Linked DNA regions of Homo sapiens. The protein of the gene in region 4 interacts with the protein of the main gene of each other region in a biochemical or structural test. Each region holds a gene or a part of one and is shown on either strand. Other genes may lie near its edges.

The links.
Region 1: of the proteins of SRPK2 (region 4) and RNF4, one has a biochemical effect on the other in vitro, tested with the Homo sapiens proteins (one large-scale study listed by BioGRID and IntAct).
Region 2: of the proteins of SRPK2 (region 4) and MYLIP, one has a biochemical effect on the other in vitro, tested with the Homo sapiens proteins (one large-scale study listed by BioGRID).
Region 3: of the proteins of SRPK2 (region 4) and CLIC5, one has a biochemical effect on the other in vitro, tested with the Homo sapiens proteins (one large-scale study listed by IntAct).
Region 5: of the proteins of SRPK2 (region 4) and MAP3K20, one has a biochemical effect on the other in vitro, tested with the Homo sapiens proteins (one large-scale study listed by BioGRID).
Region 6: of the proteins of SRPK2 (region 4) and RASGRF1, one has a biochemical effect on the other in vitro, tested with the Homo sapiens proteins (one large-scale study listed by BioGRID).
Region 7: of the proteins of SRPK2 (region 4) and ZNF234, one has a biochemical effect on the other in vitro, tested with the Homo sapiens proteins (one large-scale study listed by BioGRID).

What each region holds. Positions count from the first base shown.
Region 1 is NC_000004.12:2,471,890-2,476,339, forward strand, and holds part of RNF4 (E3 ubiquitin-protein ligase RNF4), read left to right. Parts: intron 1-4,450. UniProt on the Homo sapiens protein: E3 ubiquitin-protein ligase which binds polysumoylated chains covalently attached to proteins and mediates 'Lys-6'-, 'Lys-11'-, 'Lys-48'- and 'Lys-63'-linked polyubiquitination of those substrates and their subsequent targeting to the proteasome for degradation.
Region 2 is NC_000006.12:16,141,848-16,146,297, forward strand, and holds part of MYLIP (E3 ubiquitin-protein ligase MYLIP), read left to right. Parts: intron 1-1,172; coding exon 1,173-1,370; intron 1,371-1,851; coding exon 1,852-2,016; intron 2,017-3,049; coding exon 3,050-3,470; intron 3,471-4,450. UniProt on the Homo sapiens protein: E3 ubiquitin-protein ligase that mediates ubiquitination and subsequent proteasomal degradation of myosin regulatory light chain (MRLC), LDLR, VLDLR and LRP8. Activity depends on E2 enzymes of the UBE2D family.
Region 3 is NC_000006.12:46,005,154-46,009,603, forward strand, and holds part of CLIC5 (chloride intracellular channel protein 5), read right to left. Parts: intron 1-4,450. UniProt on the Homo sapiens protein: In the soluble state, catalyzes glutaredoxin-like thiol disulfide exchange reactions with reduced glutathione as electron donor. Can insert into membranes and form non-selective ion channels almost equally permeable to Na(+), K(+) and Cl(-).
Region 4 is NC_000007.14:105,126,233-105,130,682, forward strand, and holds part of SRPK2 (SRSF protein kinase 2), read right to left. Parts: intron 2,661-4,450; exon of another isoform or gene 2,554-2,660; intron 831-2,553; coding exon 761-830; intron 109-760; coding exon 16-108; intron 1-15. UniProt on the Homo sapiens protein: Serine/arginine-rich protein-specific kinase which specifically phosphorylates its substrates at serine residues located in regions rich in arginine/serine dipeptides, known as RS domains and is involved in the phosphorylation of SR splicing factors and the regulation of splicing.
Region 5 is NC_000002.12:173,228,775-173,233,224, reverse strand, and holds part of MAP3K20 (mitogen-activated protein kinase kinase kinase 20), read right to left. Parts: intron 3,537-4,450; coding exon 3,492-3,536; intron 1,034-3,491; coding exon 1,003-1,033; intron 906-1,002; coding exon 766-905; intron 1-765. UniProt on the Homo sapiens protein: Stress-activated component of a protein kinase signal transduction cascade that promotes programmed cell death in response to various stress, such as ribosomal stress, osmotic shock and ionizing radiation.
Region 6 is NC_000015.10:79,080,455-79,084,904, forward strand, and holds part of RASGRF1 (ras-specific guanine nucleotide-releasing factor 1), read right to left. Parts: intron 1-4,450. UniProt on the Homo sapiens protein: Promotes the exchange of Ras-bound GDP by GTP.
Region 7 is NC_000019.10:44,154,777-44,159,226, reverse strand, and holds part of ZNF234 (zinc finger protein 234), read right to left. Parts: intron 2,976-4,450; coding exon 1,108-2,975; 3' UTR 1-1,107.

The DNA.
Region 1 (4,450 bases), on a different chromosome or scaffold from region 4:
TGTAATGTAAAAGTGTAAGGTGAGGCAGTAAGTGTTGATGAAGAAGCTGCAGCAAGTTATGCAGAACATATAGCTAAAATAATTGATGAAGGTGGCCACACTAAACAACAGACTTTCAATGTAAATGAAACAGCCTTATATGGAAAAAAAAATACTATCTAGGACTTTCATAGCTAGAGAAAGGTCAATGCCTGGCTTCAAAGGACAGTCTGATTCTCTTGTTAGGGGCTAGTGTGGCCAGTGACTTAAGTTGTAACTAGTGCTCATTTACCATTCTGAAAATCCTAGGGCCCTTAAGAAGTATGCAAAAATCTACTGTGTGCTGATCATTGAAACAGGAAAGCCTGTATAGTAGCATATCTGTTTACAGTATGTTTTACTGAATATTTTAAGCCCACTATTGAGATCTACAGCTCAGAAAAAAAGATTTCTTTCAAAATATTACTGCTCATTGAGAATGTGCTTAGTCACCAAAGAGGTCTCATGGAGATGAGTAAGATTAATGTTAACATCTGTTCTGCAGCCCATGGATCAAGGAGTAATTTCAACTCTCAAATCTTACTTAAGAAATGCATCTTGAGGCTGAGCACAGTGGCTCATGCCTGTACTCGCAGCACTTCGGGAGGCCAAAGCTGGTGGATCGCTTGAGCTCAGGAGTTAGAGACCAGCCGGGGCAGCATAGTGAGACCACCCCCTCCACTGCCAGTCTCTTAAAAAAAAAAAAAAAAAAGGGCGGCAGGGGGAAAGAAAGAAATGCATTTTGTAAGGCTACAGCTACATAGATTGTGATTCTTCTGATGGGTATCAACAATGTAAATTAAAAACCTCCTGAAAGGATATACTATTCTAGATACCATTAAGAATATTTGTCTCCAGGCACGGTGGCTCACCCGTGTAATCCCAGCACTTTGGGAGGCGAAGTGGGCGGATCACAAGGTCAGGAGATCGAGACCATCCTGGCTAACATGGTGAAACCCCATCTCTACTAAAAATACAAAAAATTAGCCGGTCTTGGCAGCGGGCACCTGTAGTCCCAGCTACTCGGGAGGCTGAGGCAGGAGAATGGTGTGAACCCGGGAAGAGGAGCTTGCAGTGAGCCAAGATAGCACCACTGCACTCCAGCCTGGGCAACAGAGCGAGACTCCATCTCAAAAAAGAAAAAAAAAAAGAATATTTGTGATTCATGGGAGGAGGTCAAAATATCAACATCAGCAGTTCACGGTGGCTCACGCCTGTAATCCCAGCACTTTGGGAGGCTGGGGCAGGCAGATCACCTGAGGTCAGGAGTTTGAGACCAGCCTGCCCAACATGGTGAAACCCCGTCTCTACCAACAAAATACAAAAATTAGCCAGGCATGGTGGCACGCTCCTGTAGTCCCAGCTACTTGAGGAGCTGAGGTAGGTTAATCGCTTGGGCCCAGGAGGTGGAGGCTGCAGTGAGCCGAGATTGTGCCTCTGCACTACAGCCTGGGCAACAGTGAGATTCCGTCTTAAAAAAAAAAATCAATTAACACAACAAGAACTTGGAAAAAGTTGATTCTGACCCTCATGGGTGACTTTGAGGGGTTCTAGACTTCAATGGAAAAAGTAACTGTAGATGTGGTGGAAATAGCAAGAGAACTAGAATTAGAAGTAGAGCCTGGCCGGGCCTGGTGGCTCACGCCTGTAATCTCAGCACTTTGGGAGGCCTAGGCGGGTGGATTACGAGGTCAGGAGTTCACAACCAGCCTGGCCAGATGGTGAAACCCCGTCTCTACTAAAAATACAAAAAATTAGCAGGGCGTGGTGGCGCACGCCTGTAATCCTAGCTACTCTGGAAGCTGAGGCAGAGAATTGCTTAAACCTGGAGGGGCAGAGGTTGTGGTGAGCCGAGATCACACTACTGCACTCCAGCCTGGGCGACAGAGCGAGACTCTGTCTAGAAAAAAAAAAGTAGAGCCTGAAGGCTGGGCCTGATGGATCACCTGAGGTCAGGAGTTGGAGACCAGCCTGGCCAACATGATAAAACCTTGTCTCTACTAAAAATACAAAAATTAGCTGAGCGTGGTAGTGGGATTGTTACTGCATAGTAATCCCGGCCACTCCAGAGGCTGAGGCAGGAGAATTGCTTGAACCCAGGAAGCAGAGGTTGCAGTGAGCCAAGATCGGGCCACTGCACTCAAGCGTGGACAATAGAGTGAGACTTTGTCTCAAAAAAATAAAAGGGCCAGGCAAGGTGGCTCACACCTGTAATCCCAGCACTTTGGGAGGCCAAGGCAGGCGGATCACGAGGTCAGGAGATTGAAACCATCCTGGCTAACACGGTGAAACACCGTCTCTACTAAAAACACACAAAAAAATTAGCCAGGTGTGGTGGCACGCACCTGTAATCGCAGCTACTCAGGAGGCTGAGGCAGGAGAATCGCTTGAACCCAGGAGGCAGAGGTTGCAGCGAGCCGAAATCACGCCATTGCACTCCATCCAGCCTGGTTGACAGAACGAGACTCTGTCTCAAAAAAAAAAAAAAAAAAAGTAGAACCTGAAGATGTGACTGAATTGCTGCAATTTTTAAATAAAACTTGAACACATGGAGAGTTGCTTCCTGTGGACAGGCAAAGAAAGTGGTTTCTTGAGGTGGAATTTACTGCTGAAGGTGCAGTGAACATTGTTGAGATTATAACAAAGGATTTAGAATATTTTATAAACTTAGTTAATAAAACAGTGGCAGGGTTTGAAAGGATTGACTCCAATTTTGAAAGAAGTTCCACTGTGGGTAAAATGCTGTCACACAGCATTGCACGCTACAGAGAAATCTTTCATGAAAGGAAGAGACAACTGATGCAGCAAACTTCATTTTAAGAAATTGTCACAGTTGGCCCAGTGCGGTGGCTCACGCCTGTAATCCCAGCACTTTAGGAGGCCGAGGCAGGCGGATCACCTCAGGTTGGGACTTCCAGACCAGCCTGGCCAACATGGAGAAACCCCGTCTCGACTAAAAATACAAAAAAATTAGCTGGGCGTGGTGGGGCATGCCTGTAATCCCAGCTACTCGGGAAGCTGAGACAGGAGAATTGCTTGAACCAGGGAGGCAGAGGTTGCGGTGAGCCAAGATTGCGCCGTTGTACTCCAGCCTGGGCAACAAGAGTGAAACTCCATCTCAAAAAAAGAAAAAGAAAAACTGTCACAGCTGCCCCAACCTTCATTAGCCACTGCCCTGATCCATGAGCAGCCATCATCAGGGCAAGACCCTTCACCAGCAAAAATATTACAACTTTGTGAAGACTCAAATGATCATTAGCATTTTTTATTTATTTTTTAAGAGAATATCTCCCTGTTGCCCCAGTTGGAGTGCATTGGTGCGATCGTAACTCACTGCAGCTTCCAACTTCTGGGTTCAAGAGATCCTCTCACCTCAGCCTCCCAAGTAGCTGGGGCTACAGGCGCACGCCACCGCACCTGGCTTTTTGTTTGTTTGTTTGTTTGTTTTTGAGATGTAGTCTCACTCTGCCGCCCAGGCTGGTGTGCAGTGGCGCGATCTCGGCTCATTGCAAGCTCCGCCTCCCAGGTTCACGCCATTCTCCTGCCTCAGCCTCCCGGGTAGCTGGGACTACAGGCACGTGCCACCATGCCCAGCTAATTTTTTGTATTTTTAGTAGAGATAGGGTTTCACCGTGTTTGCCAGGATGGTCTCGATCTCCTGACCTCAAGATCCACCCGCCTCAGCCTCCCAAAGTGCTGGGATTACAGGCGTGAGCCACCTCGCCTGGCCCACACCTGGCTAATTTTTAACAAAGTTTTGTAGACTGGGTCTTGCCCTTTTGTCCAGGCTGGTCTCAGACTCCAGACTCATGATTTAATATCTATGGTTGAGTGATTCCCTACTTCTTACTCTCTTACAGAACCACTCTATAAGATAGTTGTTGTAGTTAGCCCCATTTTACTCTTCCTGAGGCACTGGGAGATCAGGGTCACTTGCCCAAGGTCACACAATTAGTAAGCAGAGCTCGAAACTTCACCCCACCCCTGACTCCTACCTTTGTTCCTTTTGTTAGGCTTTGTTATGTCATCTGCTTTTTTTGTGTGGTGGGAAAGCACATGGCCAATGTTTCTAGAAACTTCAAATAGTAAAAACAAAATAGTATCTTTATTTTTGCTTTCACCGCAGAGGAGTCTGATAATTATCCTCAAGAAAATTTATTGATTCTCAGTAACTGTATTGTATTCCTCAAAGTTATTTTTCCTAAGTTTTCTCCTCTCACCAGCTAAGGGAAGTTGTCCTAGGGCCTAGGCATTTCCCTGTCTGCCACACCTCACCTCTTACTTTAGCCAAACTACTGCTAAATTCTGCTCCTAAATATGGCAGCATTCTGTGTTACCTGCACTAAAATTTGCTTCCCTTGTAAGTACCTTCTTGATGTCTTCCAGTGTTGGTTCTCGCCTCCTACTCTTGCAAGTTGAAAAGTTGAAAATG
Region 2 (4,450 bases), on a different chromosome or scaffold from region 4:
TAGGCTTAAACAGGATGAAACTAAGGTTGGAAGGTAAACTAATCACACATAATATGCAGTTTTATGTACATTTTTGAGCTCTCTGATGTTCGAGGCACTTAAGAAGTCATACATAATATACATGTTATGTCAAATACTGTACCAGAGGAATAGAGGATTTGCATGTGATACAGACCAAAGGGTATCCAAGCAAGGGGACAGAAAGAATGGCCATCAGGACAGAGGGAGCAGCAAGACCAGAGACACCAGAGCATGAACATGGCAGCATCAGGGCTACTGCATATATTCATAGAGCTATCAAATGTATAAGCATTTCCAAAAGAAGATGAATCTGTGGTACATACACATAATTTGTGAAGTTAAGACTGGGCCATTGCCCAATTTAACCAAATATTTTCAAAAAATTTGTTAGCCTTTTATTTGAAAAATATGTAAACACAATATGAAATGCTATATAAAATGGGAATTTTTTAAATCTGTGCCTTTAAGTACAAATCTCCTAAAATAAAAAATCTATTATGTATATTGGTGTTTTCTTCATCCCAGCAAGAATTAAACCAGGAGATCTAACATAGGCATTTTAGTTATCTATTCCTGCATAACAAGTTACCCCAAAACTTAGTGACATAAAACAACAAAAATTGTCTCACAGTTCTGTAGGTCAGGAATCTGGCCATGTCTTGGCTGGGTCCTCTGGCTCATGAGACTGTAGTCAAGCTGCAGGTAGAACTCTGTCTCATCTGAAGGCTCGACTGAGGGTGGCCTCCATGCCAGGTTGACTCCTGTGGTTTGTTGGCCTACCTCCTTCCCTGGCCACAGGGGCCTCAGGGGTCAACTTTATACTTATAAACTATATGTGGACAAATGCATGAGACTTTCCAATATGTAAATTTGACTTATGTATATTTTTAGAGACTTTCCATAATTCTTCCAATTCATCACCCATCCAGCATCCCCAAAGTGTTTTTACCAAGTATTTAATAGTTGAGATCCCAGTGTCTTAGACGTTTTTTATAGTAAGTTCGCTAAATACATGAAACATCAGTAATACATAAGTTTTAAGTTGTTGTGATTCATCAGTGTTAGTATATTTCACTCGTGAAGACTACATAGGTTTATCTCTAAAGCTAATATCTGTATACTTAATTCTCTGTCCTCTTGGTGTCCTCCAGCATTGTTGCAAAACATAAGGAGTTGGAGGGGACCAGCCAGGCTTCAGCTGAATACCAAGTTTTGCAGATTGTGTCGGCAATGGAAAACTATGGCATAGAATGGCATTCTGTGCGGGATAGCGAAGGGCAGAAACTGCTCATTGGGGTTGGACCTGAAGGAATCTCAATTTGTAAAGATGACTTTAGCCCAATTAATAGGTAAGCCAAGACTTAACTTTTTTTGACCTAAGCATGTGTATACATCTGTAGCTGTCAATGTAATAGAAAATAGGAAGGGATTTACTCGACAGTCAGCTCTTAGGAATGAAAGATTTCATTTTGGTATGTACATTAATTTTATTCAGGCCTAAATAACCATTTTAAATGTTATTCAAGGTATACAATGTGGCAGAGTTAACGTTTTCCAAATAACCCATTCACTGCCATAAAAAACTTGTTTTCAGCTCTAGACATGCATGTGCGCACACCCAGCACTTGCTCCCATACTTCCCTCCACATATGCCCAACTGCTTTTCACTGTATCTTTACAATAAGGCAGCATTATGGTGATGTGATAACCCCAGAGGAAGCGTCTGATTTTTCTGCTAGGTCATGAGCAAATGGGGATCCCACAAAGGCACACACATGGTGAAGAATCACTCCTTCTAGATCTGCTTTCTTTTCTCTTCCTGTCTCTTAGGATAGCTTATCCTGTGGTGCAGATGGCCACCCAGTCAGGAAAGAATGTATATTTGACGGTCACCAAGGAATCTGGGAACAGCATCGTGCTCTTGTTTAAAATGATCAGCACCAGGGCGGCCAGCGGGCTCTACCGAGCGATAACAGAGACGCACGCATTCTACAGGCACGTATCTCGTGTGCTTGGTCACCTCAGCACCACAGCTCTCAGGTTTTTAGGTGACAACCAGGTTTCTACGGTTCCTTGGATTGTTGTGTCAATGAGTCTAGTACAGAATTTAAGAAATTCTGAACATTTTGTTTCCGTAGTAGCAGTGGAGTCCTTATTAATGTAGTCTTGTTTTACCCACAGAAGGTGCATGTGTGTGAGCTGCACAAACACATTCTCTGCTTACCTCCTACCGTATTCTCTTATGCCATTAATCTAGACACAAAGTGTGTTAGGAGATTTCTATGCCTATTTAATCAATACAACAACCCTAAGGGGTTATTATTACCCTAATGTTAAAGATGAGGGAACTGGGAGGATAATTATTTACTTAGTCTAGGACTCAGCTTCAAAGCCAAGTTTGATTACCCTAAAGGTAACCCTGAGGGACTGGGCCTGCTCCACTGCTCAGGAGAAGGATAGCACAGATCATCTTTTCTTTCTGGCAGAGCTGCTATCCTGAGTCGTCACTGTGTATGGAAGGATTTTTTAATAGCAATATTGATTCCCTCATTTCAGAGGGTACTTTAAAGCCAAGTTGTGATTGGACTCACGTATTTGGACAATTAAAGCTAAGAAATTTAAGTCGTAGACAACTTTAAACTTTTTTATTTTAAAATAGATACACAAATTGTGAAACAGGATGGGAAATTTTTAGACATTTCTAACCTAAAAGCCAAGACTTCAGGCAGATGCCCTTTTTCTTCCATAAGCAACTTCACTCAGTAGCGTCTGTCCTGGGGAGGAGGTACGTGCTCACTGCCCTCTGTATTTACTGCTTTACGGAAGCCATAATGTCAGGAGATGTTAGAGAAACAGAGGTGTAATCACTGAGAATATTTACCAGACGTAAAACTGGAAGGACTTACTTTCATACATGCAGACGAGACTATGAAACATCTGCTGACATTTCTGTTCTTATTGACAACAGCGAATAAGGGTGCTGCCAGGCTCTTTGGTGTTAAAGTAGATGTTCAATCTTGCCTTGCAGGTGTGACACAGTGACCAGCGCCGTGATGATGCAGTATAGCCGTGACTTGAAGGGCCACTTGGCATCTCTGTTTCTGAATGAAAACATTAACCTTGGCAAGAAATATGTCTTTGATATTAAAAGAACATCAAAGGAGGTGTATGACCATGCCAGGAGGGCTCTGTACAATGCTGGCGTTGTGGACCTCGTTTCAAGAAACAACCAGAGCCCTTCACACTCGCCTCTGAAGTCCTCAGAAAGCAGCATGAACTGCAGCAGCTGCGAGGGCCTCAGCTGCCAGCAGACCCGGGTGCTGCAGGAGAAGCTACGCAAGCTGAAGGAAGCCATGCTGTGCATGGTGTGCTGCGAGGAGGAGATCAACTCCACCTTCTGTCCCTGTGGCCACACTGTGTGCTGTGAGAGCTGCGCCGCCCAGCTACAGGTAGGGGAGTCAGCTGCCCACTTTTGCCTGCAGCCTCACCTATCCCTCCTCTTAACGGGGAGTAGGAGCCAGGTACTGGCTCGCTAATGCACAGACGGGGAATGCCCATCTTCACCCGGAAAGGGTCTTTGTATTTGGTGACCTAAAAGGCATTGCCCTTTAGAAACATTTTAGATTAGCATACTATTTTCAACAACATAATTACTCCAAATTATGCAGTGTTTTCAAGTTCTGAAAATGAGGCTGAGATTCCTGGGTAACATATCTAGTTAGCGGCTTACCTGAGGACAAGAATCCAGGCCTCCTGAGGCCTGGCCCAGGGCTGCTTCCTCTATTTCAAGTTGCCTCCCTTTTTCTGACACTTAGGAGGATGGTCTTTATTACTTAAGATATTTGGGAAAGAATACTTCTCAATTATCCATGGATGGGTTGTTGACTCTGTGATATTGGTGATTAATTTCCTTTTATGATTGCAAATGCCTCAAGGGCATATGGGTTGGCTGTTATTTATTAGCAAGTCAAACTAATTTTAATATTAACACGAAAAAGAGAACTCACATATAGTTTTCTTCCTTTCTTGCATGAAGAAGAATTTTAAATTTCCTCTTACAAGTTTTTTCAATTTGTTTTTATTTCTCAGATGTGTTTGCCAAATGTCACTGTGGTTTTATGTAAAACTGGTTCTAGATAATACTTAGTCCTTCAGAAGCTGCTAATTTCAGAGCTAATAAGACCAAATGACCCCTGTGTCCTTTCCCCAGAAGCAGTCATAGGCTTGTCTTTTTCTGCCCACCTATTCTGACTCTCATCCCTAAGTCTCTCCTGAGGGCTGATGATGGGCACGGGCTTTCTGAGAAGTCAGCCAGGAATGTGGAGCTGCCACCTACGGCTAGAAGCAGAGCCACCCTCCCTGGCCATGTGGGCATCAGCCCAGAAATGTTGGCCTGAGTCAGTCAGCTGAGCTAAGGACACACAATTTC
Region 3 (4,450 bases), on a different chromosome or scaffold from region 4:
ACTGGGACATGGTGTTACTTCGTCTCTATTCTAGGTAATGGGTTCCCAGTTGGACTCCATTCACTGCACATCCTCCCCTCCTTCCCCTTTTGTGTTATTTCTCCAGTCGGACACTTGTTTCTTTTCCCTCTTACCATAGAATAACGTTAAACAAAAGTGGAAAAGAAACCATCACCCTGAAGTCCATAGAGGTTGATATAGGATATGGGGTAACTGGCACAAAACTTCTACACACCAAAGCCTGTGGGTAACCAGAGACGTGCTGCAAAGGCCTCCCACGCCAAAACACCCTGCCTCAGATGCAGGGCCAAATGCACCATGTTTAGATAATTAAGCACTTCCCTCTTTTAAACTACAATTGCTCCACAGGCAGGTAGGGGCACAGCAGTCTTCCACTTTATAAACAAAAGTCTGGATCCCCCAGCTTGCCATCAGAGATGCTTCATGATCTGATCTGCTAGATCTGAATGTTTGTGTCCCCCCAGAATTCCTATGCTAAAATTTCATCTCTGAGGTGTTGGCATTAGCAGGTGGAGGCTTTGGGAGGTGATTAGGTCATGAGGGTGGAGCCCTCACAAATGGGATTAGTGTTCTCATGAGGGGCTGAAGAGAATAGAGTTATCCTCCTCCACAATGTGAGAACCCAGTGAGAAGGTGACAGCTATGAACCACATTGTGGCCCTCACCAGACACCAAATCTATTGGTGCACTGATAGACTCCCCAGCCTCCAGAACTGTGAGAAATAAATTTCTGTTGTTTATAAGCTACCTAGTTCATGGCATTTTGTCATAGCAGCTCAAAGAGATTAGGACAGAGCCTATGTGTGTATATATATATATATATATTTATATATATATATATACACACATGTATAAATATATATACATGTATAAATATATATATACATGTATAAATATATATATACACATGTATAAATACATATATATATATATATATACACATGTATAAATACATATATATATATATATATATATATATATATATATTTAGATGGAATCTTGCCCTATCGCCCAGCCTGGAGTGCAATGGCGCAATCTTGGCCCACTGCAGCCTCCGCCTCCTTGGTTCAAGCAATTCTCCTGCCTCAACTTCCTGAGTAGCTGGGATTACAGGCATGCGCCACCATGTCCAGCTAATTTTTTGTATCTTTAGTAGAGACGGGGTTTCACCATATTGGCCAGGCTGGTCTCGAACTCTTGACCTCATGATCTGCCCACCTCAGCCTCCCAAAGTGCTGGGATTACAGATGTGAGCCACTGCGCCTGGCCCCTAACTTACATTTTTATCTGCCTTCCCAATATCCATTCACACCCTCTTCAGCACAGCCAAGCAGAGCTCTGAGTTTTCTGGGACACATCCGGGCTTGTCTTGCTTCTGAGCCATTGTTCACATGATTTCCTTTGCCTAGGACATTGCATTTATTTCCTACCTCTTATTCCTTGATCACCTTGGCTAACTCCTCACGTGCCTCATTCCTCCCTCTCAAATGATATTTCTTTTTTTTCCTTTTTTTTTTTTTTTGAGACAGTCTTGCTCTGTCACCAGGCTGGAGTACAGTGGTGCAAACTCAGCCCTCTGCAACATCCACCTCCCGGGTTCAAGCGATTCCCCTGCCTCAGTCTCCTAAGTAGCTGGGGCTATAGGTGGGTGCCACCACACCCGGCTAATTTTTTTGTATTTTGCTAGAGACGGCGTTTCACCATGTTGGCCAGGATGGTCTCGATCCCCTGACATGATCCCCCTGCCTCGGCCTCCCAAAGTGCTGAGATTACAGTCATGAGCCACCATGCCCAGCCCCAAAAGACATTTTTTAAAGCAAGTCCTTATTTCTGTACTTCTTCTCCATGCTCCCTCCTCTGGGGAACCTCCTCCGTCACCTGTAGCTCTGAGCAGAAGTTCAGATAAAATCCCTAGCCCTGAGCCCCTGTGATCCTCAGCTCTGATCCTTCAGCATTCTAAGGAACATCTGCACAGGACTGGCCTGCCAGCACTTCAGATTACACCATTCCAAATCAAACGATTTTAATGAACAGCAACTCCCTTCCTCACAGGATACATAGGCTTTCTTCAGAGTTAAAAGGAAACTTAAAGCTCAATTAGTTTGTCTGTACTCTTCAATTTACAATATCTTAGACAGTAATGGTCAAGCCCATCAAAGATATCACCATTCTAGATGTGGACACTAACCTTTCCAGGGGTGAATGTACCAGGAAACTGCTGAGTCTTCGGTGTTGGTGCCCCTAATATACACTATTTGCACAGGCTTCTTCCAAGGCATGCACCTAATTTTGTATTCACTTCTGTATTCCACAACACACTCTGTCTTTTGGCCCTTGTTTGGACTCACTTGGCCTCCTGATGGGACCACTGGGATAGCCTCCTCACTGACTTCTGCCTCAGGGCTCTCCTTATTCCAACATGGTCACAGTGAATGCAGCCGTAATAGCAATGGCAAAAACAGCAGCAGCTCACATTTTATCTCACTACTCTTCCTTAAACCCACATAGCGTATATCCCAAAGTGTTAGATTGGGAACTTATCTCATCAGAGAAGGTCAGACTGGATGACTTCTGGAAGCTTTTCCAAATAATAAATTCTATGGTTTTATGAATGTTGATCACATTTTATAGAAAAAAAAAACTTACCCTTAAAGCAAGTCACGCAACCAGTGCGTGGCAGACCTGGAATCCAGATCTTCTTTCTTTTGTTTGTTTGTTTTTTCCTGTTTTTTTTCTTTTTCTTTTTTTTTTTTTCCCGATTTTCATTTGCACAAATTTATGGGGTACATGAGCAATTTTGTTACATGCATAGATTGTGCAGTGATCAAGTCAGGACTTTTAGGGTATCCATCATACTTTGAGTTCATTGATTTTCCCACTAAAGCACGAAGTCCAGCTATCAATCTTTCTAAACATAACCCAAGTCAATCTCCTATTGTGTGTAGACACTTCCAGTTACTCCCCACTACTTACAAGGGAGCAGATACCACTTACCTCCCATTCAAGGCCCCCTCCTGCCACTGTTGTTGGCTTTTTTGCTGTCCTATTTCCAATTGCTCCTTTCATATACCACTTGCTTCAGACAACCCCGTGTACTCATAAGCCCTGAGCATCCCCATCTCCACACCTTTGCTGGACCTGACATGGTTGCTCACTTTTGGCCACCTCTGAATCCTGATCATTCTTCAAGACTCAACTCAGGTCCCACCCTACCCAAAGCTGGGCCTGAAGACACCATTTGGGCCACACTGGTCCCATCATATGCATGACTCATTGCATTCCTGTCACTCATGTGCCACTGATGCTTGTTTGCATTGCACTCCTCAGTGGCACTCTCACAAGCTACTGGAGCCTGTCTTCTTCTCTGATCTCCCCCAGCCCCCTTCAGCTTTCACAGAGCCTGGCACAGAGTAGGTGCTCTGTAAGCATTTTCATATATTGATTGATTGATTATATTTTATCCCCAACTCCCTACATTCTTTATCTTACTATCTCCTTCATGCATTGCCATTTAAAATTATGTGTCACTCCTATATAATAAAAAATATACAAAGGAAGAAAAGAAAAATTACAAAAGAAAGGTCAAAAGCATTTCTTTCCTCCCTTTTCTGGTTTATTTGAGGTCAATCTGGAGTGATTCATGTGAACCAGCATATTGCCTTGGCTACCTCCATCCTGTGAAATGCTTGTTTGAAGTAGCGACTGGACCATATTTTGTCCTTTTGATGCTCCACTGAGTAGTTCAGCCCTATTTACCCATGGTTTGCACCAGTGGTTCTCAGTCTTTGATGGGCTTCAGAATCACCAGTGGGTAGCTTCTTAAGCATACAGATGCCTGGGCCTCACCCCACCCTCCTAAATCTGAAACTCTATAGACAGGACCTGGGCAGGTACAAGTGAAGAAGGCAAGTGCAGTGACTCTTTCATGCCCCAAAGGCTGAGAACCACCAGCCTACCCATGGTTTACCTCCAGTGCTGCTGGCATGGGAAGAGTCTTTGAATCCCCCTTAAAGACTCTTCCCATGCCAGCAGAGCTAAAAGAACTTCTAGAAGTTAACAACTCCATTTCTTTTTACAGGGAAGAATTCGTTTCAGTTCAGACAGTAGGCTATTTATCTTATTTGTCCTTAAAGAATTTCACATCTCAGAACTTAGATACTTCTTTCTTGAAAGAAAAGACACGTTTCCAAAGCAGGTTGTCATTTAGCGAACTGGAAGAGAAATGTCCCTGACTGTGGGAGCTGACCCCTCAGAACACAAGCAGTGTTAGATTTAAGACACCCTGGGTAGAGAGAGTCCTTTACAGAACTACATCTTAGGAAACTCATGCTTAACCACTTTGCATCTTTACTATCTCTAGTTCCTCCAGTCTTGACAACAGATACAACTCAGGATGTGTTCTGGGTAATAGTTTTTTAATAGATACCAG
Region 4 (4,450 bases):
AAGAAGAGGTACTACCTCTGCGATTGAAGAATTCCCGAGAATATTTTCCAGATAGAGCAAAGTGCCTTGGAATACTGCCTAGCAGCTCTATGATGTGGGCTATGTGGTCTATGGAGGAGAGAAAAAAAGGATATGGGAATGGGAGGGGCAAAGGGAAGGATGGGATAAAAGAAGAGGGAAAAATTGAAATTAGTAAAAAATCAGAAATAGATTCAAATCAACAGTGTCTGCAGCACATCCATGCAGAGGCTTGTGGGAATGGCAGGCCTCAGGCACCACCTGGAGCAGTAACAGTGACTGAGGCCAGCTCACCCCAGGCCACCCCAGCATCGCAAGCAAATAAGCATGGAGATGGTCAGGTTTACAGATGGCATTCAAGCCAGAATTCCTGGGTTTTCAACTCAGCTCCCAAACAGGACAGAGAAATGGGCAGCACATCAATGGTCAAAAGGACCACATAGAGGCTTCAGGTCTGTATCATCTGTCTTCTCTCAGCCAGCTGGGTTCCTGCCCTGTGCAAGGCCAGGAAGAGCCGCTGGTGTAGGGCCCCTGAGGGCTCGCTGGAGTGCTGCCTGTGCTAGGCAGGCTCTGCCCATTCACTGAGACTGAGGGGGCATCAAACTCAAAGGAAAAGCATCTGAATTTGGTGTTTGAAAACCAAACACATGGCTCTATTTCAGTACAAAAATACAGTACTCTACAGAAGTTCAGGGCTGGCAGAAGACCTAGACCGAGGTATTCAGCAGGCACCAATACTCACCTTCGTCTCTGGAATAGTCTTCCCCAGAATGTGGTTCAAACAAATAATCTCCCGTTGCCAGCTCAAATGCCTAGGATACAACAGACGACATGCTAAGCACTTCAGAGACTGGCCCCCAAGTCAACAGCTTTTTCTCCTTATAGAAGAGACCGCCACTTTATGAAGATCTGAATCAAACAAAATAGCCTCCTGAAAGTGCTCAATACTAATTTTTTTCTTTCTTCCACATTCAAAGAAGTTTCAGAAGTATTTTTACATTTCTAAGGAAAGATATAAGAGCTATGTATTCTCTTCATTTTGCAGGAAGCAAAACCAAAACGTCAGTGAGTCAGCCGCACCTGCATGCAGGCCTGGCCAGAGCGCGGTATGCACTCTATAAATGGTAGAACGAGAGTTCAACCCAGGACTCAACAAGGCCCGTCTGACTCCAGCACCTGCCTCAACCACTATAATAGCCTTGGCCTCTGTATAGCAGACACTGCTGCGTCTTTTAGGCGAAGACCTTCATGTTTTAGTAACCAAGGACTATTTTCAGTATCTCATCAACCATTTTCATCATCATTTCATTCATTTCTGATTCAACCAAAGGAAAACCTGGAAACAAAAAAGACCCTCTTTGTCCCCAGGGCCAGAGGAAGCAGATGGTCTTGCAGACCCTTTTGTGGATGTCACGGAGCACTGGCTTCCTGGGTGGCCACTGGCTGTCCCTCAGCATGCCAGCATGTAGGGAACACATTTCCCTTGCTCACAAAAAAACCCTCAAAAACATGAGTTTAAGCTAGTAACAATATACAAAAATGGCAACTGCTACTGCTCTGCTGATCAAAGAGAATGTTTTAAAAGAGAAAAAAAGAATAAGCTAAATCCCATTTCTGGTTTTTCTCATAGCTGCTTCTATTCTGAACGGATCTTGCTGTCCCAAAAGGTGCTCAGAGGCCCAATCACTGATGCCTGTGGATCTGTGACTGCCCTCCCCATTCCCGCCCCAAGGAGCCAATACTGGGGAAACTTCACTGCATCAACCTACCTTCTTTTTCTTTCAATGACCACACAGTGCTGGAAAGGCACCTTTAAGGGAAGGCTCACCTGCCTGGGTGAGGGGCCACCTCTCCTGGCACTGTCTTTAACAAACCAAGAGTGAGTGCAGTCAGCCCAGGACCACATCTTTTCACCTTTTTTAAAAAAAAAGACTGCCTGTCAATCACTTGAAGGAAGGAAGGATGGTGACAAGATGGCTTCCAGCTGACCGAGCGATAAGCATTAATTTATGAACTCAGGATCCCTGCCCTGAACCTGGCATAGGTCTGAGCAAGACACGGACATGTCACATCTCAGCATGGTGAGCTGGTGGTCCCAGCACTGTGGATGCACGAAGGCACCAGCAGAAAACCCAGGAAAGCCCTTATGTAGGGCCTCTCCTTTCCACCCAATAAACAAAGAAGACAGTTGGGCCAATCCCAGATGAGGGCAGGAAAACCTCATAACTGGCCCCAAATCCAAGTGGAACAACTAGATTACACACTCAATGGCCAGGAGAGTCCTTCTAGCCTGGGAAACAATCAATTCAGTATCTTACAAGCTAAGAGAAAAATCTGAAAACTCTAATGGGACAACGAGGACTTGAAAAGCCTGGATCAAGTTCCAAGCTGCTTTTCAACCCCTGCCTTGAGCCCTATGCTAACTAACTCTTTTAATTAATTTTCAAAATGACTTCAATCTGGTTGCATATATTTCTTTTTCTTTCATATTTTTTAGAGAAGGGACCTCGCTATGTTGTCCAGGCTGGACTCAACCTCTTGGGCTCCAGTGATCCTCTCTCAGCCTCCAGAGAAGCTGGGACTACAGGCGCACTACACTGCACCCAGCTTTGTACATATTTCTTACTGCCAAAATATGTCAGGTATGTATTCTTTGAAAAAAATCATCATTTTGATTAGCACCCACATATTCCCAAGAAAACATGTATAGAAGCCAATCAATGAAATAATTTTTTTTTGAGACGGAGTCTCGCTCTGTCACCCAGGCTGGAGTGCAGTGGCACAATCAATCTCAGCTCACTGCAAGCTCACACCATTCTCCTTGCCTCAGCCTCCTGAGTAGCTGGGACTACAGGCGCCCGCCACCACGCCCGGCTAATTTTTTGTAGAGACGGGATTTCACCATGTTAGCCTGACCTCGTGACCCGCCTGCCTCGGCCTCCCAAAGTGCTGGGATTACAGGCGTGAGCCACCAAGCCCGGCCAAATAATTTTCTTTTTTTTTAAAGGAACAAGGAAGATGAAGGCTGTAATGCTACCCATTTTTGATTCTTTGGAGAGTGGCAAGATTCTCTTAACAATACAACATGTACAACAGGGCAAATGCACATTACAATGAAAAAAACTCTGCCTTCAACTCAGTTACTCCCAGTATAACCTTCTATTGCCCAGGCTGAGTGCAGCGGCACAATTTTGGCTCACTACAACCTCTGCCTCCTGGGTTCAAGCGATTCTCCTGCCTCAGCCACCTGAGTAGCTAGGACTATAGGCACGTGCCACCATGCCCAGCTAATTTTTGTATTTTCAGTAGAGATGGGGTTTTGCCATGTTGGCCAGGCTGGTCTCAAACTCCTGGCCTCAAGTGATCTGCCTGCCTTGGCCTCCCAAAGTGCTGGGATTACAGGTGTGCATCACCTCGCTGGGCCTAAGTATAATCTTTATTATTATTTTTAATACCTGGGAACTCCGGATTCTTCTCTACTTGGCTCAATCCCCTCAAAGGGCTCTTCCCTGGACCTACTTGTTTCCAGATTCTTGGGAGACCAACTACCTCTCTCCTAAAACATTCTCCTATGCTGAAGTATCCCGATTCTGAACAAATAAGATCACGTATTTGTTCTGTAATGTGACCAGTGCCGAAGAAGTCTGGTGAAGTTTGTTGGAATGGCTTTTCTTGTTTCTATGGCACTGACCAGGACTCACCATGGAGTTCATAAAAAGTCCTATCAGAGACTCTAATACATAAATGCAGAGAAACCAATGCTTCAGCCACAAAGAAGTTTCAGATTATATGTACTTACACTGGAAGGTGTAAAGCTCAAAAAAAAAGTAAAACTCAAGAAAAGTAAAACAGATCCAAACCCAACATACCCTTGCTGTGGTCCCTCATTCTGTTGTGCTTCTCCAGCTGCAGAGCCTAAAGCTGTCCTCCCTGACAATAGCCAATGGCTACCACCCGTCAGCTCTCATTCCCAACAGAGTCTCTGTGAGATTTGATGCTATTTATAAATCTCAAAGACAGCCGGGCACAGTGTCACATCCCTGTAATCCCAGCACTATGGGAGACCAGGGCGGGTGGATCACTTGAGCTCAGGAGATCAAGACCAGCCTAGACAACGTGACAAACTCCATCTCTACAAAAAATACAAAAATTAGCCAGGCGTGGTGGCATGTGCCTGTAGTCCCAGCTACACCAGAGGCTGAGGTGGGAGGATCACTTGAGCTTGGGAAGTGGAGTCTGCAGTGAACTATAGTCCTGCCACTGCACTTCAGCTTGGGGAACAGAGCAAGACCTTGTCTCCAAACAAACAAACAAAACCCTCAAAGACTATATATAGGCTTTACCACCAAGAACCATCTGTGGCCTTATGACAGCTTGGTATTATGAGGTCAAATTTAATATATTAAATGTCCTATTTTTACACTACAACAGA
Region 5 (4,450 bases), on a different chromosome or scaffold from region 4:
CTGGGGTCCTTAGGGATTCCTGATGGATTTTTGTCCTCTCTAGAATTAAACTGAGTCACCTCCTGCTATTCTGGGTGGATGGCTGTTTTCCAGGCACCACACTGCCTTTGTGGTATTTCTTACAGCCGTCATTTACCATTATCGCATAGGCAGTATCTGTTTTCTCCACCAGATTAGAGACTTCCTGAGGGCAGGGGGGTGATATTCAGGTTATCTCCCTGTGAGTCCTACTATACCATGTATGCACCTTTTTGCTGTTTGGATTATGAGGAAGGAATAGGGGTGCCTGGGGGCAGCTGCTGATTATCAACTTGTGTAAGCATTTCAGCACAGTAATGACCAGCATAGCACTGTTTCCATCTGCAGCCCCTAACACGTGATCTGCTGCATAGTAGGTGCTCAATAAAGATTTGTTGATGGAGGCCAGGCCTGGTGGCTCACGCCTGTAATCCCAGCACTTTGGGAGGCTGAGGCAGGTGGATCATTTGAGGTCAGGAGTTGGAGACCAGCCTGGAAAACATGGTGAAGCCCCATCTCTACTAAAAATACAAAAATTAGCTGGGTGTGGTGGCACGCTTCTGTAATCCCAGCTACTTGGGAGGCTGAGGCAGGAGAATCACTTGAACCCAGGAGGCGGAGGGTGCAACGAGCCAAGATTGTGCCTTTGCACTCCAGCCTGGGCAACAGAGCAAGACTCTGCCTCAAAAAAAACCAAACAAACAAAAAAAGGGTTTGCTGATGGAATGTTGTCCCTTTCTCAGGTACCTTGAAGTGAATGATATGCCCCTTGGAGACAATGCCCATGTCTTTCAGGTCTTCTTCCTCCAGCAGCAGCAGCCGCTTCCCTGTAATGTTGTTTTCTTTAAACAAGCTTGCATATACACTCATCTCTGCTGAAGAGTCACCTGAAGGAAGTGATTAGAAAGCAGAATAAAATTAGATGAAATCACATCCAAAACAAAGTTAACTCCATGATTGAAGAAGGTAACTTATTCCACTTGCCTTTTCTGACGAGCTGCTGAACCCAACAATACTGTGAAAGAGAGGACACATACGGTTTTGAAGATTCACACATGGTCAGTGGCCAGTCTTCACAGTAAACATAGAGTTTTCAATAGATCAAAATAACTTTAATTCCTGGCTCAACCACAAAGGTAAAATAGAAGACTTTCTCTTTGTAGTTTTAAAACCTCAAGCTTTCAAATGGGAGATATCCCTCTCTTCGGGGGTCTTGGACAGTTAAAAGCCCCTTGGTTTTCCTCCTTCTTTGGGAGATATTTTTAAATCCTTTCAAGAGGGTTCTTACTTATAGTGATTTTTCCATTTATGTGCCAGTGGTCCCCTGGATTGCTGAGGGGCACCAGTTTACTCAGGAATTGTATGAGTTCCAGGGACCACACAGCAGTGGACAGAGCAACAGACAGAAGGAATCTTTTGTTCTAGGCCAGGTCATGAAGTAGCCACGTGGCCCCAGCCAAGTCAAAGTGTGGAGCTTCCTATGTAGAATGAGGAGATTGGACCCAGTGACCCTTAGTCCCTGTATATCACAGGGTCTGGGTTTACTGGTGGCCTCTCACAGTACCTTGGTGAGGAGAGAAGGATGGGAGGCCAGACTCAGTCCCTGTGATTCTCTGGGGAGCCCTCAACTCTGGAATTTTATTTAAGTGGCCTGGAAGCCACTCAGCCTCAGAGCAAAGACTAAAAATAGCTGTTAGAACTCAGTGATTTTTCAAAAATTTCTTTTCAAATGACAGGGGAAACTCTGCAGCTAGGGATAAAGAGATGATATCCAGGCTTGTGAATAAAGGAGACCCTGAGTCCTCTTTCCTTGTTAAGCAAGGCTGGCAGGAAAGTGAGACTCACTGGGGCTCAGTGAATGGGAAGAAATAGTGGCAACTGGTGCCAAGTTTCCTTACCCTACGGAAGCCAAAGAGGTTAGCTAATGTTGAAAGCAGGTGCACTTCAAAAGAATACAAAGGGCAGAGAGGGAAATGCCTGGGCCCAAAACCAGGTTGAGCTAGGTAAACAGATCTTTTGAGGAGTTTCCAGTAGCTAGTCTGCACTTTGTGGCACCTGGTCTGTTCCCTGGGCTGGAGCCCAAACCCACTAAGGCTGGCATTACATCTTTTGTTTTTTTCATTTTCATTTAGTGATACCCTGAGCTTGTTAAATAGACCTGGATAGCATAAGTCCCTGAGTTTTATAGAACTTAAAAAAAATTTTTTTTTTGAGATGAAGCCTTGCTCTGTTGCCCAGGCTGGAATACAGTGGTGTGATCTCAGCTCACTGCAACCTCCACCTTCCATATTCAAGCGATTCTCTTGCCTCAGTCTCCCAAGTAGCTGGGATTATAGGCATGTGCCACCACACCTGGCTGATTTTTGTATTTTTAGTAGAGATGGGGTTTCACCATGTTGGCCAGGCTGGTCTCGAACTCCTGACCTCAAGTGATCCTCCTGCCTCAGCCTCCCAAAGTGCTGGGATTACAGGCCACCGTGCCCAACCTAGTCTCTGAGTTTTCACATCAGGAATTTTCATACCTGTTTTGTCACTAAAAAAATAGATATGGTGATGTAACAGACTAAGTTGGATTGTTTCTCAGGGTTTCTATCAAGAATGCAGAGTGCAGGACTTCTTTTGGACTTCAACAGTCTGAGTGCAGCCTCTCAAAAACATAGGGCTTCTCTGGCTAAAGCTACAGAGAATGTCTGGGCGTGCTTGTGTCTATTCCCACTTGGGAGGCCAGAATAAGGCTGGCAAATATGATGCCTCACTTTCAAACAGGCCTGAGGTGGAAGGAAAGCCGGTTCAGCGGTGTACCAGCCCAGCACTGCCTTGACCAGATCCTCCTCTACCATGGCTCGAGGCCATCCCTGTTCTTGTAAAAAGATTTAATATCACTTTTTTTTCAAGTATGTTCATTTGTTTTCCCGAGCTGCCACTTTAATTTCCTCATGGGTATTTGTTATTGTATTCTGGAATAGTTTCAGAGTAATTTAGGAAGGTAGAACCCACTTAGAAGATTTGCAGAGATACTTGCTTTACTCTTGAGGCTTTATTTTCAATCATTATTGCATTAAAAACAGAAAAAAAGGCCAGGCACAGTGGCTCACACCTATAATCCCAGCACTTTGGGAGGCTGAGGCGGGCACGTCACTTGAGGTCAGGAGTTCGAGACCAGCCTGGCCAACATGGTGAAACGCCATCTCTACTAAAAATACAAAAATTAGCCAGGCATGCTGGTGGGAACCTATAGTCTTAGCTACTCAGGAGGCTGAGGCAGGAGAATCGCTTGAACCTCAGGAGGTGGAGGTTGCAGTGAGCTGAGATCGCACCACTGCACTCCAGCCTGGGAGACAGAGTGAGAAAAGAATTTGTCAACCTCTCCTAGTTAGACTTTCCTAAGGCCCAATCTCTTCCCCTAAAAACTTAGGGAAAAATTTATGAAATACCTGCTCAAGTCAAATAAGGCATGAATACAAAGAGCTTACCACATCGTCTTCCGTCCATGCACCAATCTCAAAGGAAGGCAGCAGCTGCATGGGAAATATGCATGAAATGAAAAAAAAAAGTAATATTATCATTGTCTTTTTGGTTCATCCTCTTGTCTCACTCTTTCAGCTCTCAGCTGCTGCTCTGGCTTGGTTCCTCCTGCAGGTTGGGTTGAATGGAAAACAGTTTTCCTGACCTTAAGAGGCAGTTCTCAGTGCTCCAGTAATGTTCACCAATCTCTCAGTAACAATTCATGTACTTTGGGAGCTGTATCATATTCCTTTGTTGGTACCTGGTTTTTACATCCCACAATCAAGCCTCAGCAGTCAAGCAATTTCTGACATTTTCTCAGAGACCTAGAGTCTTCCTCAGAGTCTCAGCCAACATGAGGACTGTTGGATTATTAATGAAAATTCCAAAGCAACCACTTAGTAACCAGATCATGTATTATGCCTGTTCTCAAGGGGGAATTTCTAAGTGTTGAAAGATCTCATTTGCACAATATTTTAAAAACCAAATGTTAGCACTCACGGATGAAGAAGGACATGGGAAATTGGTACGGTCCTAAGAAACCCAGGCTGCAGAGTTGCTCTAACTAAAACAGATTAAAATACCTCCCTGTGAGGTTCACAAGTACAAATGAAGATGCCTCCAGAGGACTTCAGCCTGCACCATTTTCAGAGCCAAAGAACTACTTACTGTCTTCAATATATGCCCCATGGCCATCTAAATAATAAATGCTTACATAATTTTTAGAAGTCTGTGTGTCCTATAAGTCAAATTAGAGTTTGGTACAGCTATTAGCTTTAACTAGCCTAACTTGCCCCCCAAAAATGAATTGCTTATGAGATAATATGGCAAATTGTCACTCATCTTCTGTTACAAATATTTTCTTGTGAGTGAGTTTCAAAAAAAAGTTGAGTTTGGTTGCTTTTACTGTTAGTATAAAAATCATAGG
Region 6 (4,450 bases), on a different chromosome or scaffold from region 4:
ATTTCTTGAGTTTGGCTAAGAGCCCAAGAGGTATCTAAACAAAGTTGATTATATTTCACTCATATAGTCTCACAGGAAAAGTTCATCTTGATCACGTTTCTCTAAATTTCTACATGGAGTTTTGGAATACCAGCTAAGGTTACCAAAAATTCATTCATTCTTCTAAAACTGATTTTGAAAGGACTTTATTTTAAGATCTGAGTTGGATTTTCCAGTTTGAAAAAAAAAAGAAAGCTCAACTAGGAAGTATCTTTTGGAAAATAATTATCTCATGTTTCAGGGGAAAGAAATTGCATTAGCCCTGATGGATTAGTAAAATCTAGTCTTTAGAGTATAAATGACCTCATTTAACAACCAGCCTCAATGTCCACTAGACCTAGAACCTGGAGGCCTGGTGCAGATTCTGATTCTGACATTTAGCAGCGAGAGCTCAGGGCCTGGCACAAAATAGACACTCAATTGGTATTTGTGGAGAGAATGAACTCTGTCTATGCAAGCCTCGTCTGTCAAATGAGGATCGTGCCTCTCTTATGTAGAACCACAGTAACTGCAGGGTCACTGTGGTGGTTAAATGAAATGCTAATCGTGAAAAAGACTTTGTAATCTGAAAAGGTGCTTTATCTGAGTGGGTGGCTGACTTGGAAGGTGTGGAGACAACACTTGAAGCTTTCACGGGATGAGAATTTGACATTCCCACTGCCGCCCCAAACCCAGGATGTGGGAAGCCCCAGAGGGCATGGGGCAGAGGGCATGGGGCTGCAGAGTCTCAGAATCTTGAGCTCTGGGTGTTATTAATGGCCCACCACTAAAGCACAGGCTTCAGTGGCTGAGTCACGGCTGGGATGGGAGTGGAGGGGAGACCTTTAGTGCTCATGGTACTCCCCAAATTCAGGCCTTTGCTACTGCTCAGTTCTGCAGCCTCCTCTTAATTGGCTTCCTGCCTCCAGATGGGTTTTCTCCTGTTCATTCACACTCTGGTGATCTTCCTAACACACAGATCGGAGCAGCCCCTTTCCCACTCAGAGCCCTGCACTGGCTCTGCACTGGGCCTGGGAAGGCCTGAGCTTTGTGACATAGCACACAGGCTTTTAGGGCAGCTTTGGTGTCCCCTGCAACCTATATGCCCCTAATCACCCCCCACACCCCAGGGCTGGGGGAAGTGCCCTTACTGGACTCCCATAGTTCTCACCCCTCTTTGGCTCTCCTGTGTGCCAGCAGGGATCACACTGCATTGTCACTGTCTGTTCACAGGCTGTCCCCTCGCTGTATGGCAAGCCCCTCCAGGGAGGGCCCCTGCTGTTTGTCCCATCCTCCCAGTGCCAGGGAGGCATAGGCCTGGCCCCTCAGAGGTACTGGTAAATCTCTGTTGAGTGAAGGCTGTCAATGGAGTGTTAACATCTCAGGAGGACACTTTAGCCTTTAAAATCCTCTCCCTTGTTAATTCCAGGGAAGCCTAGTGGCCAAAATGCTTCTGTGACATTTGGTCAAGAATGACAGAGTCACCGAGCTTAATGAAAGGAGGGGAGGCCAGGCAAGGATCCTGCCCCTGTAAGCTCTGAGCTTACACTCACACCACATACTATCCGTGTCCTCATGAAACCACCATAAAACCTCTCTTCAGCTACTGTGTGTGTGCCCGATGATCAGATTTGCATTTTAGAAAGATTTTTCTGGCTGCAGAGAGGCCAGTGGACTGGGGGTGGGGGCACAGTGCATGTGTGGGGACAGTGGCTACCATTAGCACCATATTCTCCTCTCAGCCTTTCTGGCGCTCTGTGTCCAGGCACACAGTAAGTCTGTACTTCTGCACCTCTTCTGAAATAAAGCCAGGTGGCTCACCCTGTCTAGTGAACTGTGCTCAGAGTGGGTCCCTTCTGGGAAAAGCCAATGAGACATCTGTCACACTCCTTCCCCTCAGTGGAGGGGACCATGGAGGCTGGTGTCAGGACCAAGCCTCTACCAGCCCAGGTCCCTGAGTGATCATCATGAGCAGTGGCCTCCTGCCAGCTGCATGGGACATAAAGCACAAGCAAGAGATGAGTCTTAGTTGTGCTGATGGAGATCTGGGGGTTGGTTGTTATTGCAGCACAACCCAACCTACCCTGACCGACACACCAGTTAGGAGGCCACTGCGTAAGATGAGTCCAGGTGAGAGGTGATGCCAACCTGGACCACAGTGGTGGAGGAAGAGAGGGACAGAGGGCACAGCTCTGAGAGATATACCCAGGAGGAAAAACTAACAGGGCTTCGTGATGATTTGTCCACAGGGATGAAGAAAGCTCCTGCAGCAATCATCTGTCCTTTGGTAAGGGCTTGCTTGCTTGGACCTTTTCAGGAACTCACAGGTTCTTTGAGCTAAGATTTCCATCCTATTTTCATATGCAGGGTCAGGGCTCAGTGTTGGCTTGCTTCCAGCCTGCGAGAGACCCCAGGGACCTGGGTCACTGCTATAGTGAGGAACAGTCTTGTCATAAAGGTGGAAGCCAAAGCCCCAGCTGCTGCAATTTACTGATAACACCTATTGCGCTGTGCTAGGGCTTTCCAAACAGCGTGTAGTTTAACACAGAGATGGGGAAACTGAGACTCAGAGAACTTAAAAGCCTTCCCAAGCTAGGAGGTGGCAGAGCCGAGACTTAGAGCCAGGATCTAATGCCGGGTCGCCATGGCTGCGAATTCTCAATGCTGCCTCACTATCAGGGACAAAATAACTCCTCAGTGAAGGAGGCTGGAGGCTGGAAATGAAGGCTGCATGTGAGGGGCTGTACTCTCCTCTCTGAGTCGGGGACAGAGAGTGGGGGTGTCCACACCTCCCAGCTGCTCCCTGCACGACAGTCGCCCTCACGGAAGTGTTTGGGCGTTGGCAGTGTTCTGGACCTCTCTCAAGTCCACGCGTCACTAGTGCTCCTGCATAAACATCAGGGGGCTGAGTTCTGTTCTTGGCTGCACGCACACGGGCACCGGCTCCATGCTCCCACAGATTCCAGGGAAACCGGATTGTGGGGTGTGGATGCCTGCCTTGGTGCGCTTCCCATCAATGCTCAGGGGATTCAGAGTTGCGAGGTTCCCACCCAAGCAGAAACAAAAGCCGCCTTCACAAAAATCACTGGCGCGACTGTGACATATTTTCACCTGCTATTAATTCTCTTTCTTTCTCCATGTATTTTGGCAATAGACAGCAAGGAATAACAGTCCCCAGCCAGTCTTTATGATGTGTTTGTGGATGAAGAGCTCAGGTTTTAGAATCAGGAAGACCTCCTGGGTTCATGGCCCAGCTTCTGCATGTACTTGCTCTGTAACTTTGAACAACTTAACATCTCTGAGCCTCAGTTTTGTCATCTAGAAAATGGGCAATTAGTGATAACCTCACAGGGCTGTTGGAATAATTAAGGGAAGAGCTGTAGGTAAAACATGTACTCTGGTGCCTGGCACACAGCAGGTGCTCAATAAATGGTATTTATTGTCATTCAACATTTTTGATCTGGCGTTTTGAAACATCCTGCTACAAAATTATATACATTTAAATCTGCATTCATAGCATGGCAGAGTTGAAGGGCATTTAGTAATAACTCATGGTGAAGGTCAAGCTTTTTAAAGCACTAGGAAAGATAAAATCTCATGTGGAAACCTAACATATAAAACAGTTAAAAATGGGACTGCTCTGATTGATGTGGGAGTGTGGCCCCCAGGGCTCCTCAGAATGAGGCAGAAAATCATCGATGAAGGGAAGTTAAGGATTTGTCTATAGTGACCCAGTGGGAGAGAAGGTTCAAATCCTACTTCTCCTGTGCAGGTTTGGCAAATACTATGAAGGAGGAGTGATGGCACCTGCCTGGCAGTCTTGAAAACTGAAATCCTAGTGTAGACGAGCCGCCAAATTCAACTTCCCAGTGCTGGCTCGTTGCTCTTGAAGAAGTGCAAGCAAAGGCTGACCAGCCAGGCCAGGCTGTGAAAGCGTTGAGTGCAGGCAGACCCCAAAGTGACCTCATGAGGCTCTGCCCAGCTGGCACTATTCTCAGCCAGCCTGCACGTCCCCTGCGGTGCACCTGGCAGCCACATCACTTCATTCCCTGGGCTCTGGACAACAGGGCCGCCACCTGCTGAGCTTCTGCACATGCCGTTTTGTTCGGTCCACCCCTCTCAGCACACACCACCCACTGTCCTCCTCGTGGGGCTCCGCTGGTTTCTGTAATAAGTGTCCTTACCATACTAGAGGGTGGGGGCATTAAAGCCCTTTTCTGCCCTTGGGCTTCTCAAATGTGACCTCCCTGAGATTAAATGTGATGAGATCACTGCCACTCATCCTCTTCCACTGCCCATAAACCTGCTTGTCTTCAGCTCTCCCCTCTCTACTGGTGACATGCATCTGCCTGGTGGCCTCAGGCAGAACCATGGACTTCAGGTTTGATCCTGTCTTCTTTTCTGTTACAACCAATGGGATGGCAGGTCTTGC
Region 7 (4,450 bases), on a different chromosome or scaffold from region 4:
CAGCCTCGGTGACAGAGCGAGGTCCTGTCTCAAAAATAAAATTAAAAATAAAGGTACTTCAACTTATGTTTTATAAAACCTTTGGGAAACTAGACAGGCTCTCAATAAGAACCAAATTTGAGAGAAGAGACTACAGAGAGGACAGGTGTCAACTGTAAAAGAGTAATATCATATTAATATTGTAGGCTGCAGTATCCAGTGGTTTTCTGCATTTCAACAAATGTTCATTTCTGCAAATAATTTTATTTCGCAGGTTTCTTCCTTTGGATACAATGTTCAAATATTGTGCATTTACTCCTTTTGATTCAGTTAACAAACAAGTATTGAGCACACCTACAAGCACTAGTCAATGTTAAGGTTGTATAGATTCGGTAGCAAAGTTCCTGCCCCCATGGAGCTTACAGTCTAATGGACATCAATTCTGGCACCTTCATCAGTATACTTTTTTAAAGCCCAGGTCAAACTCATTTTCTAAGTCCTATTTCCTAGGTAACATGTCATAAATGTCAAAGTTTTGACAGAATGCTTTACTGTACCACTTAACAAGGGTTCTCAGCTGTGTGGTCACTGGACCACTGGGATATGCTGAGCTATTGCTTAAACACTGACTTAAATAAAACAAATATTTTAAATAAGAGAATGCTACTGTAATTAGAAGGCAATCATTTCAAAGTCTAGATGGAGGCCAGGGGCGGTGGCTCATGCCTGTAATCCCAGCACTTTGGGAGGCCGAGGTGGGTGGATCACATGAGGTCAGGAGTTTGAGACCAGCCTGGCCAGTATGGTGAAACTCCATCTCTACTAAAAATACAAAAATTAGCCAGGCGTGGTGGTGTGCACCTGTAATCCACTGAGGCAGGAGAATCACTTGAACCCGGGAAGTGGAGGTTACAGTGAGCTGAGATAGCACCACTGCATCCAGCATGGGCAACAGAGCGAGATTCTGTTTCAAAACAAAAAATAAAAAACAAAAAAAAGTCTAGGTGGAAATGTGGAGCGTTACAAATCAAATAAATTCAAAGAGGTTGATAAAGAAAATTTTTCCCTCCTATGAAATCTAATTACAAGCATTCAGGTTGTACATGAGTTCTGTTTTTTTTTTTTTAATCACCTTGTAGAACTTCCTCCCTCTGACAACTCTCTGATGTTCTTACTATTCTCATCATTTTCATAAAATGTACCAGCAGCATGAATTTTGTGATGACTTACAAGATTTGATCGCCAGCTGAACCTCTTACCACATATCTCACATTTGTAAGGTTTTTCCCCAGTGTGAACTCGCCTATGATACTGTAATTGTGAAGACCGACTGAAGACTTTACCACATACATCACATTTGTATGGTTTCTCTCCTGTGTGGACACTCTGATGAAGTTGGAGACTTGAGGCCTGACTGAAGTGCTTCCCACACTCCCCACATGTATAGGGTTTTTCTCCTGTGTGCACCCTCTGATGCATGTCAAGGTTCAAGCTCCACTTGAAGCCCTTTCCACACTCCCCACATTTGTATGGCTTTTCTCCAGTGTGGACTTTTTGATGGGCTTGAAGGTGTGCACTCCGACTGAAGCTCTTCCCACACTCTTCACATTTAAATGGTTTTTCCCCACTGTGAACTCTCTGATGGGTTAGAAGATGCGAGGCCTGACTGAAGACCTTCCCACACTCCTCACAATTATATGGTTTCTCCCCTGTGTGGATCCTACAATGAATTTTAAGATCTGCTCTACGACTAAATCCCTTTCCGCACTCTTCACATTTGTATGGTTTCTCACCGGTATGGATCAGCTGGTGAATCTGAAGTCGTGAGCTCTGATTGAAGCCCTGCCCACACTCTTCACACTTAAAAGGTTTCTGTACACTATGTGCTTTCAGATGGATTTTAAGATATGAACTCTGACGGAAGGCTTTACCACATACTTCACATTTATAGGGTTTTTCCCCTGTGTGGACTACCAGATGCACTTGATAATGAATTTTCATTCTGAAGCTCTTCCCACACTCATTGCATTTGTATGGCTTCTCTCCAGTGTGGACTCCCTGATGGGCCTGAAAACTTGAACTGTAAATGAAACCCTTACCACACACTTTACATACGTATGGTTTCTCTCCAGTGTGGATTCTCCGATGGGCCTGAAATTGTGAAGGCTGAATAAAGCACTTACCACATTCTTCACACTTGTAAGGTTTCTCTCCTGTGTGGACCCTTTGATGGATACGAAGGTTTGAGCTACAAGTGAAACACTTACCACAGTCCTCACATTTGTATGGTTTCTCTCCTGTGTGGACCATGCAATGATTATTAAGTGCTGATCTACGACGGAAGTTCTTACCACATGTATCACATTTGAATGGTTTCTCCCCAGTATGAATTCTCTGATGTTCCTGAAGATGGGAAGCATGTATGAAGGCCCTTCCACATTCCTCACAATTGTAAGGTTTCTCTCCTGAGTGTAATTTGCAATGTACAGTAAGTGTTGATCTACGACTGAAGCCTTTCCCACATTCCACACATTTGAATGGTTTCTCTACAGTGTGGACTCTCTGATGAGTTTGAAGATGTGAGCTCTGACTAAATTCCTTACCACACACGTCACACTTATAGCATTTCTCTCCCATGTGGACTCTTTGATGAATATGAAGGGCTGAGATGTAACAGAAGCTTTTTCCACACTCATCACATGTATGAGACTTCTCTCCTGAGTGTAACTGTTGATGAAGATCAAAGTTGAAGACATCAGTGAAGGATTTTTTGTACTCATCACATTGGTAAAATTTCTGTCCTGTGTGAGTTGTATATAGTCCTGCCCTAACCTGGCAGGACAAATCACCTTGTCTGGGGAACCGAGAAATACTTATCATAGAGTCTTCATACTTGATTAAATCACTTGCAATCTGTTTCCAGATTTGCCCCCAGTAAAGCTCTTCATGTCGTCCTGCTTCTGGAACAGTCTCCACCTCACTTTGGATCTTGTCTGCTGTAAGGACAGAGAATTCAGAGATGTGGAGGCTCTGTTAAAAGTTTTCAAGATGTCATACTTAGGCGAGAGCATGCGATTTTAACAAATCCAGAGAAGGTCCAGTTTGTGTAATGGTCTTTTCCACTGTGTATCATGATCTCTGATTTCCATGCCTAGATAAATCAAGAGGTGGTCCAATTGGCTGCTATCTACCAGGCATTAGACCATACCAAGTCTCCTATGTGAGACACAAGTTAGAAGTCAGAGTTAATTTTAAAAATTAACATGATACAAATTGTACTGCCATTTCCATCGAATTTTAAAGTCAGTGTAGAATAATAAATAGTAAATTATCTAAATATAAAAAGCATAGGCCAGGCATGGTCATGCCTGTATATCCCAGCATTCTGGGAGGCTGGGGCAGAAGGATAGTTTGAGGCCAGGGGTTTGAGACCAGTCTGGGCAACAAAGCAAGAATGTACCTCTATTAAAAATATTAAAAGTTAAAAAAAAATGTAGATAATATAAATCAACAAGAACTTCAAGGGAAAGTAAGAAAATAATCAAATATTTTGCAGTTTAGGTTCATGTTACATATTCAAATTATTAAATAACCTGAAATGTTTATATTTACATGTTCAAAATACAGTTGACCGTTGAACAACACAGGTTTGACCTGCATGTGTTCACTTATACATGGATTTTCTTCCATCTCTGCCATCCCTGAGACAGCAAGACCAACCCCTCCTCTTCCTCCTTATAATTTTCTTAATAACATTTTCTCTTCTCTTTATTGTAAGAATAAAGAATTCTTCCTTTATTGTAAGAATATAGTATACAATACATTATAACATACAAAATATGTGTTAATTGACTATGTTATCAGTAGGTCTTTCAGTCAAAGTAGGCCATGAGTAAAGTTTTAGAGGGGAGTCAAAAGTTATACTTGGATTTTTTACTGTGAGGGGAGTTGGTGTCCCTAACCCCCAAGTTGTTCAAGGATCAACCATATTCTTGAATATTCTGCATAACATATACACTTAATCTTATTTTTCTGTGTTGACAGACATTAAATGAGCTGACAACTATTATAAACTCTTGACCACTTCTAATATAACTTAGATTTAAAATGTTTAAACCCTTCTGAAAGGTTTATCCTTAATAATATTCCAAAATGTTTAATCTTGTATAAAGAGATATAAATATTTGGAAATTATTTTTTAAATGAACTCTTCCACAAAAGTTTAGCAGAAAGACGTACCTCTAAGGAAATTTTTACAGAGGAAAAACTTACTCCCCTCCTGCAGGAATAGTCATTTAAAAGCTGCCTCTTGGCAGGGTGCAGTGGCTCACATCTGTAATCCAAGCATGTTGGGAGGCTGAAGCCGGAGGATCACTTGAGCCCAGGAGTTCAAGACCAGCCTGGGCAACATAGCAAGACTCTGGCCCTACAAAAAAACTTTTAAAAAAATTGGCCAGATGTGGTGGCACGC